Linked DNA regions of Homo sapiens: region 1 is reported to be linked to region 2. The links are microRNA targets in miRTarBase. Many come from high-throughput screens and were not tested one by one. Region 2 holds a microRNA gene; the other region holds the end of a gene's coding sequence.

What was found. Region 2 holds the annotated microRNA hsa-miR-4478 (GAGGCUGAGCUGAGGAG, at 3,518-3,534, opposite strand). A microRNA usually pairs through its seed, bases 2 to 8, with sites in the 3' UTR of a target mRNA and lowers its output. Matches are read on the target gene's strand: a 7mer-m8 pairs with bases 2 to 8, a 7mer-A1 pairs with bases 2 to 7 and ends in A, and an 8mer does both.
Region 1: the mRNA of MCF2L2 is a reported target of hsa-miR-4478. Seed matches in the 3' UTR shown: 7mer-m8 at 5,533-5,539.

What each region holds. Positions count from the first base shown.
Region 1 is chr3:183,172,834-183,180,157 of GRCh38, forward strand. It overlaps MCF2L2 (MCF.2 cell line derived transforming sequence-like 2), which reads right to left. Exons shown (of 30, transcript NM_015078.4): 28 at 7,238-7,324; 29 at 6,744-6,859; 30 at 5,208-6,670. The coding sequence ends at 6,547. It also overlaps the pseudogene SNORD3P4. Among named protein-coding and RNA genes, the nearest start is that of LAMP3, 14 kb to the left of the region's middle. RefSeq lists a silencer at 6,428-6,517.
Region 2 is chr9:122,116,630-122,124,351 of GRCh38, forward strand. MIR4478 (microRNA 4478) reads right to left here and starts at 3,538; the gene lies at 3,453-3,538.

The DNA of each region.
Region 1 (7,324 bases), not on the chromosome of region 2:
GAGGTTGCAGTGAGCCAAGATCATGCCACTGCACTCCAGCCTGGCAACAGAGCGAGACTTCATTCAAAAAAAAAAAAAGCTCTTACACTCTTCTGCATATTCTGCAAAGTATACTCTGGGAAGGCTGGTTTAGAGGATCTCTAACTTTTCTAATATTTCATAATGCATGGCTGATGTTTAACATGAACTCAGACTCCCATCAGATTTTACAGATCTGGGTCTGCTTTTAGTTCTAATGCTTCAGCCAGGGCACTTTAATCTGAGGTCACAGCATTCCCAATTGTCAGCAGTATTTTGAAATCTAAGTTCCTCTGGTGGACAACAGGCAACATCATATAGCCACGGAGGATCTGAACAACTTCTAAGTCTGAGGGATTTTATCTGGTGGTTTTGGATTCTTTTCCATTTATACTTAAACAAGGTGACACAAATGTCACTCACAGAAAAGCCACTCTTTTTTCCCCTGTTTTTAAGAAGTCTAAAAATGCACAACTATTTCCTGAATGAGCAGTGTGTCCAGGTGTAGAATAGGGAATGTCGTGTCCACTGGGAACAGACGGTGTACCTGGCACAATTTTATGAGAATTATCCCATGATTCCTGTCCCACCCTGCAGCCCACCATGGGCTCAGTGGGGAGTCTGAGTCTCTGAGCCCCAAAGGGTAGCTTTTTCCCAGACGACACCAGCAAGCAGAGCAGCAGCTTGGGGCTTTGACAAGGAGGCTGGAGTGAAAGGTCATATTGGACCATCCTGGATCACTGGAGGACAATACCCCAGGAACCTCCAGCAATGACTGGTATTGGAATGACTCCCCTGGTCACCCACCTGTGGCAAGACATTTGCAAACAGGGTCTTCCTATGAGGCTTGTGAGGTTTGGCCAATTTGCATTCTGCTAGAATTATTAAGTATGGACATCCTCATAGATCCAGAAAAGGGCCGAGATCCAAAGGATTGAGAATGCTTTGGGGGGTGTTTCCATAGTGAGTGGCTGGCTATTCAACAGTCAAATGTTTGAGAGGATACAAGTGATGTGTTTCCTGAGGCAAGTGGTCAGAACCCAACAGACTCTTCTGTTCAGCTAAGATGAGAGACCATCTGAAGTTCTTACATGTTCTCACAGAGAAATGGATTCTCATAGGGAAATGGATATATTGTGATAGACACTGTAAGCAGAGAAGTTGACTGAGAAACACACACACACACACACACACACACACACACGTCAAGACTGAATGCATAGATGTGTATTATAAAAAGTGTAAAAATACACCACCATTGTAACAGATTGTGTAGGACTATATTTTCTTTTTTTTTAATTTATTATTATTATACTTTAAGTTTTAGGGTACATGTGCACAATGTGCAGGTTAGTTACATATGTATACATGTGCCATGCTGGTGTGCTGCACCCATTAACTCGTCATTTAGCATTAGGTATATCTCCTAATGCTATCCCTCCCCCCTTCCCCCACCCCACAACAGTCCCCAGAATGGGATGTTCCCCTTCCTGTGTCCATGTGTTCTCATTGTTCAATTCCCACCTATGAGTGAGAATATGTGGTGTTTTGTTTTTTGTCCTTGCAATAGTTTACTGAGAATGATGATTTCCAATTTCATCCATGTCCCTACAAAGGACATGAACTCACCATTTTTTATGGCTGCATAGTATTCCATGGTGTATATGTGCCACATTTTCTTAATCCAGTCTATCATTGTTGGACATTTGGGTTGGTTCCAAGTCTTTGCTATTGTGAATAGTGCCACAATAAACATACGTGTGCATGTGTCTTTATAGCAGCATGATTTATAGTCCTTTGGGTATATACCCAGTAATGGGATGGCTGGGTCAAATGGTATTTCTAGTTCTAGATCCCTGAGGAATCGCCACACTGACTTCCACAATGGTTGAACTAGTTTACAGTCCCACCAACAGTGTAAAAGTGTTCCTATTTCTCCACATCCTCTCCAGCACCTGTTGTTTCCTGACTTTTTAATGATTGCCATTCTAACTGGTGTGAGATGGTATCTCACTGTGGTTTTGATTTGCATTTCTCTGATGGCCAGTGATGATGAGCATTTTTTCATGTGTTTTTTGGCTGCATCAGTGCTCTACACGTTCAGAGAAACTTCTCTAGTGACGAACTATAGAAATGATCCCTGAAAGTATAGTCTTAGGACTATATTTTCTTTTGACTTGGGAGGCATGTTTATTGCTGTTAATGCTGCAAAGGGCTCTACGTGCTTTAAAAAATCCCAATCTGTTGCATTCATAAGCCTGGGTTGGATCTAAAGCAGCCTCCCACTTTTGGAAAGGCATCCCCACGACCTTTCCATGGTTGCTGAATGCAGCTGGAGGCAGTCACAGCTGGTGATGTCCGGAGCCCATTCCCCACTGTGCTGGTCTGCAGAACTTCTGCATGCCATTCCCACAAGCAGGTCTCTGCCCTGCTCTCCTCCACCTCCCTTGTCAGAGGAAGTCTGCACTTCACAGCTTTCTGGTCTCAACCCTCCTCCATCCCTACAGATGTGTAAGCAGCAGGAATCAAAAGGTGAAGGAGAGGGGGCAACTCACCTCCGATGGACACGTGAAAAGTGGGAGATGGATAAAATCAAGAAGGAGCTTAAGATATCCAGAAATGTAAACTGTGTTTGGAAAAGTAAGGTCAGGAGAAGCATGGGACTCCTGAGGTTGCTCCCTACTATCTTGCAGACTTGCTGCAGGACCAAATGAAGCAGGATCTGTCAAGCACCAGGGCCAGCTCTTAAGCTTAGTGCCTTTCTGAACCCTGTGACCCAGCAGCCTCCATCAACTCGTCCTACCTGCCATGCACAGCTCCTCTGTGCCCCTGTACCTGAGCTCATGCTATTCCCTCTGCCAGGATGCCCTTCTCCTTCTCCACCAGGAGAAGAACACTTGCCAGTAAGACCCAGTTCTAATGTCACCCCTTCCTGACGGTATCAGGAAGAGTCAGTGATGGTGTTTTATGCTCCCAGAGAATTTGCCACATTGTGTTGTGATTATTTTTCCACATCTGTCTCCCCCACTGGAATGAGAGCCTCACTCATCTTCATACCTCCCTGGTCTCTACCTGGTGCCAGAACCATCCTCAGGGCAGGGGAATGCTCAGGAAATAGATATTGAATAAAATAAGTGTATCCATCCATCCATCCATCCATCCTTCCATCCATCCAGACATATATACATATGTAAACATTCTGATGGTCAAATGGAACAATGTGGGCTGAAGAATAATGCAGGTAGAAGAACCTAAGATTACAGATTCTTGATTTGGGAGGAACTTTATTTTATTGTGCAAACAGTCTACAAATTTGAAACATACTCTATCAAGAAAGACACTGTTGTTAGGAAAGGGCGTGGGAGAGGGTGGCCCCACAAAACAGTGTAAAGTTCTAAAGAATTTGAGAGGAACACTCTGCGGGACCCTGTTCCAAGGGCATCTTTCTAAGAGTCTGTCCCTTAGGCTCTGCCCCTTTTTGGCCACGTTGTCAAAGGCCTTCTTTATGAACGAAGTGAGACACATTATTTTTGTTTTCTTGAATTCTAAAGTGATTGTCTTGAGTTCCCTGGGGGAGACTCCTGGGAGGTGTGGCCCACTCTATTCCAGAAACAAACCAGGAGACTGAAGACTCATCCCAATCCCATATCCCATGAAAATGTGAAATCAAATCACCCCTGACAATTCCAAAACTAACGGAATCCTAACATAACTCTATGTAACTCTAAAGCTGAGTGTGCTGGTAATTAAGCTTCCAGCCCACCCTTCCCAGCTCTGGGGTGCAGGGTCACCATGGGCTCCTTCCTGTGTGCACCCCACCCCACCCCCACTGTCAGCATCCTGTCTCCACCCTGAGAGTGACAGCTGGTTCCAGTAGCGGGAGTTGGTTCCAGCTTGCCATTTTCCTAGCACTCCTATAACCAGCCTGCTGATGCCCATTCAGAGACAGCAGCACGGGCTGGCCATGTCCCCTCTCCAGAATTCTGCGTCCAGCTCCTGGACCTTGAGCTCTGAGCCCTTGGGCCACGTGTACAATTAATAGTGCCTCCTCCTCAGAGGACTAACCCCCAGCCCTAGGGCCACCTTCATATTTCTGAGTTTTGATATTTTCAACCTCTTTTCTTTGTTGTATGAGTCCTTGGGCTGGGAGCTTGCAGTCAAAATCTTCATGATATCTCATTATCACTACTTTTTTTTAAATCTCTACTAGCTGGATAACAATTATTTATATTAAATTCTCTCTTGAAATAACTGATACAGTGTCTCTTGATTGAAACTTGACTAGTAGACTAAGAATTCTAACTCTAAATAATTCTGAGGGCCGGGTGTGGTGGCTCACACCTGTAATCCCAGCACTTTGGGAGGCCAACGCGAATGGATCACCTGAGGTCAGGAGTTGGAGACCAGCCTGGCAAACATGGCGAAACCCGGTCAGGAGATCCAGACCATCCTGGCTAACATGGTGAAACCTCATCTTTACTTAAAAAAAAAAAAAAATACAAAACAAAATTAGCCAGGCGTGGTGGCAGATGCCTGTAGTCCCAGCTATTCAGGAGGCTGAGACAGGAGAATAGCGTGAACCCGGGAGGTGGAGCTTGCAGTGAGCCGAGATTGCACCACTGCACTCCAGCCTGGGTGACAGAGAGAGACTCCGTCTCAACAACAACAACAACAAATTAGCCGGGCATGGTGGCAGGTGCCTGTAATCTCAACTACTTGGGAGGCTGAGGTAGGAGAATTGCTTGAACCCGGGAGGCGGAGGTTGCAGTGAGCCAAGATTGCGGCACTTCACTCCAGCCTGGGTGACAAGAGCAAAACTCCATCTCAAAAAAAAAAAAAAAGAAAAAAAAATCTGACAATTAAATAAAGAACAGAAAAAAAATTTGAATGGCAAATACAAAGCTGAAAAGAAATAACTGAGAATAAATAACTCTGAAAATAGCTCAAAAACTAAATACCTCAAAAACTCTTTAAAAATTCAGAAAATATAATGTTCAAATATGAAGTAATGCTGAAAATGAAATAACTAAAAACCAAGTAACTTGAAAAAAAGAACATAAAAATAAACAACTCAAATATAAAATAACTGAAAATAAATACCTGTGAACATAAGCAACTCGAAAACCAGATAACTAGGGGAAACCCTTCATTAAAACATTTCACTCTGAAAATAAATAACTTGACAGTAGTTCATGAACTTCCAGTGAGTGTTTAATAGTCAAATAAGTTACTGTAAAAATAAATAACTCAAAAACTCCAATAAGATAAAGTGAAATAACTATGAAGGTAAATAACTCAGATAATAATTGTAAAGATAATTAAAAATAAATTCCGGCTGGGCGCGGTGGCTCACGCCTGTAATCCCAGCACTTTGGGAGGCCGAGGCAGGGGGATCACGAGGTCAGGAGATCGAGACCATCCTGGCTAACACGGGGAAACCCCGTCTCTACTAAAAATCCAAATAAAAAATTAGCCGGGCGTGGTGGCGGGCGCCTGTAGTCCCAGCTACTCAGGAGGCTGAGGCAGGAGAATGGCGTGAACCCGGGAGGCGGTTTGCAGTGAGCCGAGATCACACCACTGCACTCCAGCCTGGGCGACAGAGCGAGACTCCGTCTCGAAAAATAAATAAATAAATAAATAAATAAATTCCAAGCAAATTAATTTGAACATCTGTAACTCCTAAAACAAAACAACTACATATAAATAACTGAAAATGAACAACTAAATAACTTTGAAAATAAAGTAACTATAAACCAGTAACTGAAACTATAAAATTAAATAACCAGAAAGCTACAAAGAAATGAAAATCAACTAATAAAACTAAAAATAAAATACAACTGAAACTAACAAAACTCATTTAAAAACTAATAAATCGATACATAAAATACCTCAGAAAGTAACTTGGAACGAACTCTCTCTACAACGAAGCAATCTTGGCACTAACACGAACACCCCATGAACGCTCGCAGGGATGCTGGGAGGCGGACCGGGAGCTCCCAGTCTGCGGCCCCCGCCGGGTTGGAGCGGCTCCGGCTCCTCCAAGGCTCGGGCTAAGCGGCTCTCAACCGATTCCCACCCCGCCCTGGAGAAATGCGGGCGTGTCTGCAGGCATTTTTGATTGTCACGATTTGGGGGCGGGGTGGAGGATGGGGTGGCGCATTCCTGGCACCTAGTGGGTAGAGGCCAGGGGTGCTACTAAACATCCTACCGTGGGAGCACAGAGAAGCCCACGCAGCAAAGAATTGCCCGGCTCCGAATATCGAAGTGCGCGGTCGAGAAGGCGTGGGCTGCGGGCTCTGCTCGCCTCTGCAGGCGCCTTAGAGCAGCTCCGAGGTCCCCCGTGCGGAGCTAGGCGCGCACCCAGGACACCCCTCGGGCTCCTCGGAGGAGGCCCTGGTTGTCCCCTTTCTGCCGCCGCCGAGGCTCCGGCTGCTTTCTGCGTAGCTGGGCAGGGCCCGGGCCCCCACACCGCCTCTCCCGGGAATGCGGGCGCTCTGGAGCCGAGGAGCGGGGGCGTCCGCAGGGAGGTCAGCTCTCCTGGGCGGAGGTCCTCGGGCGCAGCGCCCTCGCCTGGAAACCAGCCGTCGCCCCCGCAGGAGCCAGCCGGCCCGTGGACGCCCCAGCGCGCTCCTCCTCGGTGCTGCGGGTCGCCCTGCAATTCCGAGAAGAAAGTCAGAGACGCCGTGGCCCAAAGAGGCGCTTAGTCTTTCCTCGCTCACACTCACGTTTCCTCCTCATCGCGTTCTTCTTTTTCTCCCTGGCTGCTTTCTCCCCTCTCCAGGAAAGCAGATTTGGAGGAACAGGTTTCGTGACTGTCGTCCGACTGGAAAAGGCCCGCGAGCTGGAAGGGAGGGGACGGGTGCACCCTCAGAGTTATTGCTGGAGGCTGTGGCCAGACCGGGCAAGGTGGTGACTCCCGCTGGCAGGCTGAGGCCCACCCCAGCCCTCCCACCTGGGCCACGGGGCTCTCAGCGGGAGCCCCAGTTATGACCGGACACCAGCGCACCGCCAAGGAGACAGCCACGTGGGGACATGCTGGACTAGGAGGGTCAGAGCCAGTTTGAGGGTCTGGTGACCTCGGCTCCCTGGCTTAACCAGGTCCTTATGGGTGAGAATCCTGAGGAGGGGGAGAGGGATGGAGGCTAGGGACAGGAGGCAGGAGGAGCTGATGAATAGGAAGGAGGGAAGAAGATGAAAGAAACAAAAGGGAAGTAATTACACTCAGAGCACTGCTCTCCTTTTCCATGTCTTCTGCGCCTTCACAGTCTTCAAAGGTGTCCATGGAGCTAAACTCCCTGCTGGAGCA
Region 2 (7,722 bases):
GAAGCTGGCACTCAGCCCCAGACAGACAGTGCTGGCCTTGCCCAGGACTCACCCTGGAGGGAGATGACAAGGGCGGTAGAGTGCAAGGTTGGAGCCCCTAGCTTGGGTTCAAACCCTGATTATGTCACTTTTTGGTTGCGTTACCTTAGATCAGGGCTTCTCAACGTCAACACCAGGACATTCTGGGTTAGAAACATCTGTGCTGCAGGGGTGTCCCGTGCACGGGAGGGTATTCAGCAGCATCCCTGCAGCACCCCTGAGATGTGACAACCACAATGTCTCCAGACATTGACAAATGGCCCCCCAGGAGTACAATCACCCTTGTTGAGAACCACTGCCTTGGACAAGTCGCTTATTTTTCTTTGACCTCAGTTTCTCCATCAGTAAAATGGGAATTAATTGTGATAAGGACAAAAGCTAACTTGCAGTGTTTACTGAATGTGAGAAATTGTTCTAAGTGCTACACATGTTTTAAGTTTAAATTCATTGTATCATTGCTGCTGCCCTAAAGGTGGGTATTATTCTCCCCATATTCTGGGGAAGGAAATAAAGACACTCAGAAGCTGAGTAATTCTCCAAGGTCTGACAGCTAAGAAGGCTGCTGTATTAGTCCGTTCTCACGCTGCTATAAAGGACTGCCCGAGACCGGGTAATTTATAAAGGAAAGAGGTTTAATTGACTCACAGTTCAGCATGGCTGGGGAGGCCTCAGGAAACTTACAACGATGATGGAAGGGGAAGCAAACACATCCTTCTTCACATGATGGCAGGAAGGAGAAGTGCTGAGCACAAGGTGGGAAAGTCCCTCCCATCAGATCTCGTGAGAACTCACTCACTATCATGAGAACAGCATGAGGGTAACCACCCCCGTGATTAAATTACCTCCCACCGGGCCCCTCCCACAACATGTGGGGATTATGGGAACTACAATTCAAGATGAGATTTGGTGGGGACACACCCAAACCATATCAGCCGCCTAGCTCAAACCTTAGGCCCATAACCTTAATGGCTGGCCTCCAGGGCTTAAAAAGTTCAGGACTGAATGAGGCAATGCATGTAATGTGCACTGTATCTGGAATTATCTCAGTGCTCAATAAATGGTATTATTAGTCTCAACAAACCTCTGCAACCCAAATGTTGGCCCTTTATGCAGATACAACAGGTTGTATCTCCCGTTGTTTCTGGGTCAGCTAATGGTTATGGCAGTCAGGCACAGTGGCTGATGCCTGTAATCCCAGAGCTTTGGGAGGCCAAGGGTGGAGGACCACTTGAGGCCAGGAGTTCGAGACCAGCCTGGGCAACATAGTGAGACCCCTGTCTCAAAAAAAAAAAAAAAAAAAACCATGGCTATTGAATGACTAGTCTGTGCCAGTTATCACATTTAATCCCATGAGAAATTTCCCCGCCCAGGTTGCAGAGGAGAAAAGAATGACTGAGGGAGGGGAAGGGACTGGCCCAGAGTCACACTGCCAGGCACAAGGCCAGCACCAGGCCATGGGGCTGTCTGCTATAGCACGACCCTCAGCGGGACCTGGGTGCCCAATGTCAGGCTCTCTCTGCCTCTGCAAGAAATGTCAGGGAGAAGATGACCAAGTGGTATTGGACAGAATGGCAGTGATGCTGAGGAAGAAACCAAAGGTGAGGGCCCTCTCCCTTTGTATTAAACGAAACTTTCCAGGCTTAGGCCCTGCAGCCTGTACGGTGTCAAAAAACAATTGTCATAAGTTGTCGACACTTGGAAACATTTAAACTTATGAGGTTTCACATTAAAATCTGTATTACTGCCTTCCTTTACAAATCTGGAAGAAGGAATGCATCTGTATAGGTGGGTAAGAGCAGGGGCTCTGGAGTCAGACTACCTGGGTTCCAATCCTAACTCTGCCACTAGCTTGCTGTGTGTCCTTGGCTGAGTTACTTAACCTCTCTGTGCTCTGCTTCCTTCGTCTGCATAACGGGGATAATAACAGCACTTTCACCAAGATTGTCATGGAGATTAAATAAGAAAGTGCCTATACAGCACTTCTTTAGAACAGCACCAGGCACAAAAGAAGCATGCAAAATGTTAGCTGGTGTTATTTGTAACTTTTTTTTTTTTTTTGAGACAGGGTCTTTCTCTGTCACCCAGACTGGAGTGCAGTGGCACAATCATGGCTCACTGCAGCCTTGACCTCCTGAGCTCAAGTGATCCTCCTGCCTCAGCCTCCCAAGTAGCTGGAACTACAGGCTTGAGCCACCGTGCCTGGCCGTTTGTATCATTATTTACAGTGTTTAGTATTAGGCAGTGCTGCCCCTGGATTCTGTCCCAGGCAGAGCTGAGTAATAGCTGCCCCTTTAGATGAAGTGTGACCTCTTCCATTGTCCACAGCCCACAACCCCAGGGACCAAGGCTGAGGTCCTAAAAAAGCCAACACTGTGTAGGGGCCTGACTCCTGGCTGCTATGTGACTTTGGACAGTCACTCCCTCTGTCTGGGCCAGTGTCCTCACTTATAAACCAGAGGCACAGGGCCCTGAAAACATTATGCTAAGTGAAAGAAGCCAGACACGGAAGGCCACATAATGTCTAATTCCATTCCTACCAAATGCCCAGAATACGAAAATCCATGGAGACGAACAGTGAATTAGTGGTTGCAGAGGCTGACGGAATGGGGAGTGACATCTCATGGCCACAGGGTTTCTTGTGGGGTCACAAAAATGTTCTGGAGCGCCATAGTGGAACCGGTTGCACAACCTTATGAACACAGTCATGCGTTACTTAATGATGGGGATACGACCGGGCACAGTGGCTCATGCCTGTAATCCCAGCACTTTGGAAGGCCGAGGTGGGCGGATCACCTGAGGTCAGTAGTTCGAGATGAGCCTGGCCAACATAGCGAAACCCCATCTCTACTAAAAATACAAAAATTAGCTGGGTGTGGTGGCACGTGATTGTAATCCCAGCTGCTCAGGAAGCTGAGGCAGAAGAATTGTTTGAACCCGGGAGGCGGAGGTTGCAGTGAGCCGAGATCGTGCCACTGCACTCCAGCCTGGACGACAGAGTGAGACTCCATCTCAAAAAAAAAAAAAAAAAAAAGATGGGGATACATTCTGAGAAATGTGTCACCGGGCAATTTTGGTGGGCAAACTTACATGAACCTAGATGGTGTAGCCTACTGCACAACTAGGCCACATGGCATAGCCTATTGCTCCTACACTATAAACCTGTACAGCATGGTACTGTGCTGAATACTGTCAGCAATTGTAATGCAATGCTAAGTATGTGTGTATCTAAATATATCTGGATGGTTTCCCTGCAGGTAACAGCTGGCTCTGATGTCCTAAGGAGACCCCAGCGCCATGACAAACCCAGGGATCTCTGATTGCTCCCAGCCTGAGTCGCTTCATATCCTACATGGGAGGCTGAATCCACAATCCCTCCTGCAGACGTACCCTCTCCTCTCCCTTGTCCCTGCAGAGGCCAGGGCTGCAGGGGATGAGGCTCGCCCCTAGTACTGCATGACCCTGTCTACAGGTTTGGAGGCTCCTCAGCTCAGCCTCGGCCCCTGGGCTCTTGTCTTGCTAAGCCCAGAGACCCAGCTCCCACTGGGCTTGGTGGCTGCTTGAAGTGGATCATGCCTTGCACCTCCCCCTCCTCTCCAGAATCTTCTATGTGTGCCGAGACTCCCAGAACAGGAGACATTTGGCTACATCACCCAAGATGGTGCCCACTTTCCATTGCCATGGGTCTAAGAAAAGGTGAAGTTCCCTCCCCCAGCCCTTCCCTGCCTGCTGAGGGATAGGACATGTGTCCCCATTTGCAGTGGATGCAGGGAGGGCTGGAGAAATGCTCTGTGCTCTGAGTAAGGCATGTTCCCCTGTAAGTGTGCCCATGACAGCTTGTGTATGCATATGTGCATGTATGGATATGCATGTTTGTTGGCAGGGATCTGTGCACATTTGTAGGTCTGCCTTTCTACCCGTCTTGTGTTCTGGACTGTGCACATATCTGCCTTGACAGACTTATCAATGTTCACACACTGGCTACACCTGTACCTTGTCTATATGTGTGGCTGCGTGCGTGAGTCTGCTGGAGCTCAGCACTTGTGTGGCTGAGCTGTTTACACCTGTCTGAATATGAGGGGTGTGTTCACGTGTCCCCTGAACGCACACTAGTGCATGTGTCCCTTCTGTGTGTGTCAAGGCAGGCCGCACGGCCATGAGGACCATAGCCCAGGCCTTGGAAGTTTTCCACGAGCTTAGACTCCAGCACCCACTGCACATGGCAAATGGCACCAGTGACCTGCCGTGGAAGGCACAGATGCCAGAGGGCACCACTACTCCAGCAGGAGCAACACCAACAAGGCCAGCACCAGCCCCACCCATGGCCTCCAGAGATCCTGGAGCCTGGAGGGCCCAGACGAGCTGGCAGCTCCAGGCTCCAGGCTCCTCAAGGTCCCACAGACAGGCCAAAATCCAGACAGCGGGAAGGGACAGCACAAGCCGGAGCCTGGGGACCAGAGGCAGTTTGGGGGTGCTCCATGGGGCCACACCCCAAGCCTGCTCTACATATTCTTCTAGGGCTCCAGAAGTGGGGAAAACCACAGGTGGGGAAGGCTGCCCCACAGGTGTACAGGTACAGGTGTGAGGCTGACATAGGTGGGTGAAGGATCAGAATCAAGAAGAGGAGATACTTCCTGCCTGATGAGTCTCTAGCTGTCCCCTCCAGGGCGCAAAGCCCCAGCACCTCCTTCTCTCCTGTCTTTGGGGCACCCAGCCATGGCCCCAGCCCCTTGGGCTCCAGCAGCAGCAGCAGATACAGGAGGCTGAGGCTCAAGTGAGAGTGGCTAGAGGGCAAGTGAGCTGAGCAGGTGGAGGCCAGACCACCCTTTCCCATCCCAGCTGGCCCGGGCCACAGGTGCCACTCGATGAGGCCTCAGCTAAGCACCGAGACAGTTGCCCTCAGACAGCCCACGCCAGCCAGCTCCCTGCACCAACCGGAAGCTCCTGCGGCACCTGGCACCACCCGAGGCCCGCCTGGGAAAGAGAGGGCCTGAGAGCCAACTCAGCCTGGCACCCGGGAGGCGATGGTCTGGTGAGACTTGGGAAGCTGAAGGTCCTGCCCCAGGTGGAACTCAGAAAGATAAAGAAATGGCAGCTCAGAGATAGGAGGGGACTTGCATAGGCTGCCTGTCCAGGCAGCGGCCAAGCTCTTGTGACTGTAGAGTCCTTTATTACCCTTTCCCACTCCCAAGCCAAAATGCTGGTACCAGGACCCAACTGAGTCAGATCCATCTTCAGTTTCCCCTAGACACCCACCCAGTGGGCTCCAAGAGGCCAAATCCCGGGGACTGGACCCCTAGGACAAGTCGGTGACCCAGGGTTGCCTGCCCTTCTTTGCCCCAATACCAGGACTGCCCTGGGCCTATAACATGCTTTCCTGAATTCTGGATAGGTCTCCCTACCATAGCTCAGAGAGGGTTGCCCACTTGCCCAAGATCACACAGCCGGGGAGCTGGCACCGGACAACTGGCCCGTGGGTGTTCTCCTGTGTCACTGTCCTCGGCTGCCCTGGGCTGGCCCAGCTTCTGAGGGGAAGGGGCCCTCCACAGAGGTACTGTCTCCCCAGGCCACCTCTTGCTCCTGCCCTGGCTTCAGCTTCCCTGCCACCCACCAGCAGTGATCAACTAAAGCCACACTTTGTCAGACATGGAATGAGGCTCCAACCCTGACTCCTTGTCCCCAGCTGAGGCCACCAGCAGCCACCAGCACACCAGCCCCTCTGAAGATCTGATGGCGGCCCAGAGCCAGGAATCAACTGTCGTGACCCTCACATTGCCCCTCCCACCAACTGGCACCAAAGGACTGCAGACCCACAGGGCAGCACTGGGAGGCATCCCAGGATAGGGTGGGGCTGCCTCAGAGACCTGAGGACCAGCAGTGCTGAGGAGACTCTCATGCTCTTTCCCTCCTTGTCTCGATGAGCCCTGAGGCCCAAAGAGGGCACAGGTGCTGACATGTCCCAGAGAGGGCAAACAGTGGCAGGACAAGGAGCCTGCACAAAGAGCCAGAGCTCTGCCCTGGGGGCAGACAGAAGAGGCAGAGGCAGCCCCACCCCCACCCCAGTACTCCCCGTAAGAGGAAGCAGAGGCCACCTTCACAGACGGTCGCTGCAGGCAGGTTTAACCCAAGCTCATGGGATGGTCTGTCCTCACTCAGCTAACCTTGCACACGCCTGTAGGCCTCCTCGGGCTAGCATTCTGTGTTCTCACCACATGCTATACCTGTGCCATTGACCTTACTCACTTAACACACTTATTGTGGTCAGATGGGGGGTGTCACATTGAGCTGGGAAGGCGGTAAGGGGATGCAGAATGAAGGGGATCCCAACAGGGTCCAAGAGAATATGATGTCCAACTGCCCCATTTTGCGGAGAAAGAAACTGAGGCCCAGAGAGCCCAAGGACGCATCACAGATGAAAACAGCATCTGGAAGCCGACTCCTTACAGAAGCCTGAGCCCACGCAGGACCTGCTTTTATGCTGCCCCCTTGTGGTCAGAGGAGGGACTGCCACCCAGAGGCGCCCCCTGCCTTGAGTCCACTGAAATATTTGGTCTCCTTTTCTCCTTCTGAGGTCAGCTCGCCTCAACCCTACCCCAGGGTCTTACTCCCTCCTTGTTTGTAGGTCCGGAGGATCCTCAAGGGCAAAGGGCACCCGAGTGTCCCCACCAAAGGCTGGCCCCCTTGAGCAGAGATACGTGGAGAGGTGACCAGCTTTGCTTTACTGAGCCTGCCTGGCAGCCCCACAGCCATATCCGGGCCCCCTCTTCAGTCCTCATCTCCGTGCCTCCTCTTGTTTTCTACATGACTAATCATGTCCTCTTTCTTGGAACCCCCTCCTTCCTTGGCCCCAGTGATGCCACACTCTCCTGGGTTTCCTCCAGTCTTCCTGGGTGTTCCTTCTCTCTTTTGTGGGCATCTTGTTCCCCTCGGTCCCAGCCTGTTGGTGCCCCCTGAGCCTCTTGTTTTTGCCTGGATTTGGAGCTGGGCCACCTAGCCGGCAAGCAGGTAGACACCTCAGGGCACCATCAGACCAGGAGCATCAAACAAGGAAGATGAGGAGGAAAATGTGTTTCTGTGAACCCATGGATGTGATGATTGCAAACGTTTTTTGTTTTTATTTTTATTTTTGTTTTTTGAGATGGAGTCTCACTCTGTTGCTCAGGCTGGAGTGTAGTGGTGTGATCTCGGCTCACTGCAACCTCTCCCTCCCAGGTTCAAGCAATTCTCCTGCCTCAGCCCCCCGAGTAGCTAGAATTACAGGCATGCGCCACTATGCTCGGCTAACTTTTTGTATTTTTAGTACAGACGGGGTTTCACCATGTTGGCCAGGCTGGTCTCGAACTCTTGACCTCAGGTAATCTGCCCATCTTGGCCTCCCAAAATGCTGGGATTACAGGTGTGAGCCACCGTGCCAGTCCAAGAGTTTTGTAAGGCATGTAAGTGTTACATTTTATAATTTAATTTAGACTCCTTTTTGACTCATGGGGGTGAGGTGAACACCATATCTTTGGTGCTTAGGGCTTCCAAGGACCTTTCCTGGGTGGCCTCAGCTGTGCACTGCCTTCAACCACCTGTCAGTAACCTTCCAACTCCCAAGTGAATATCTCCAGGCCTGATTTCAACTGCCTCCTGGATACCTCTCCAGACATCCCCTTGGCTCTCAGGCTCTAGGCTGATACCTCTCCA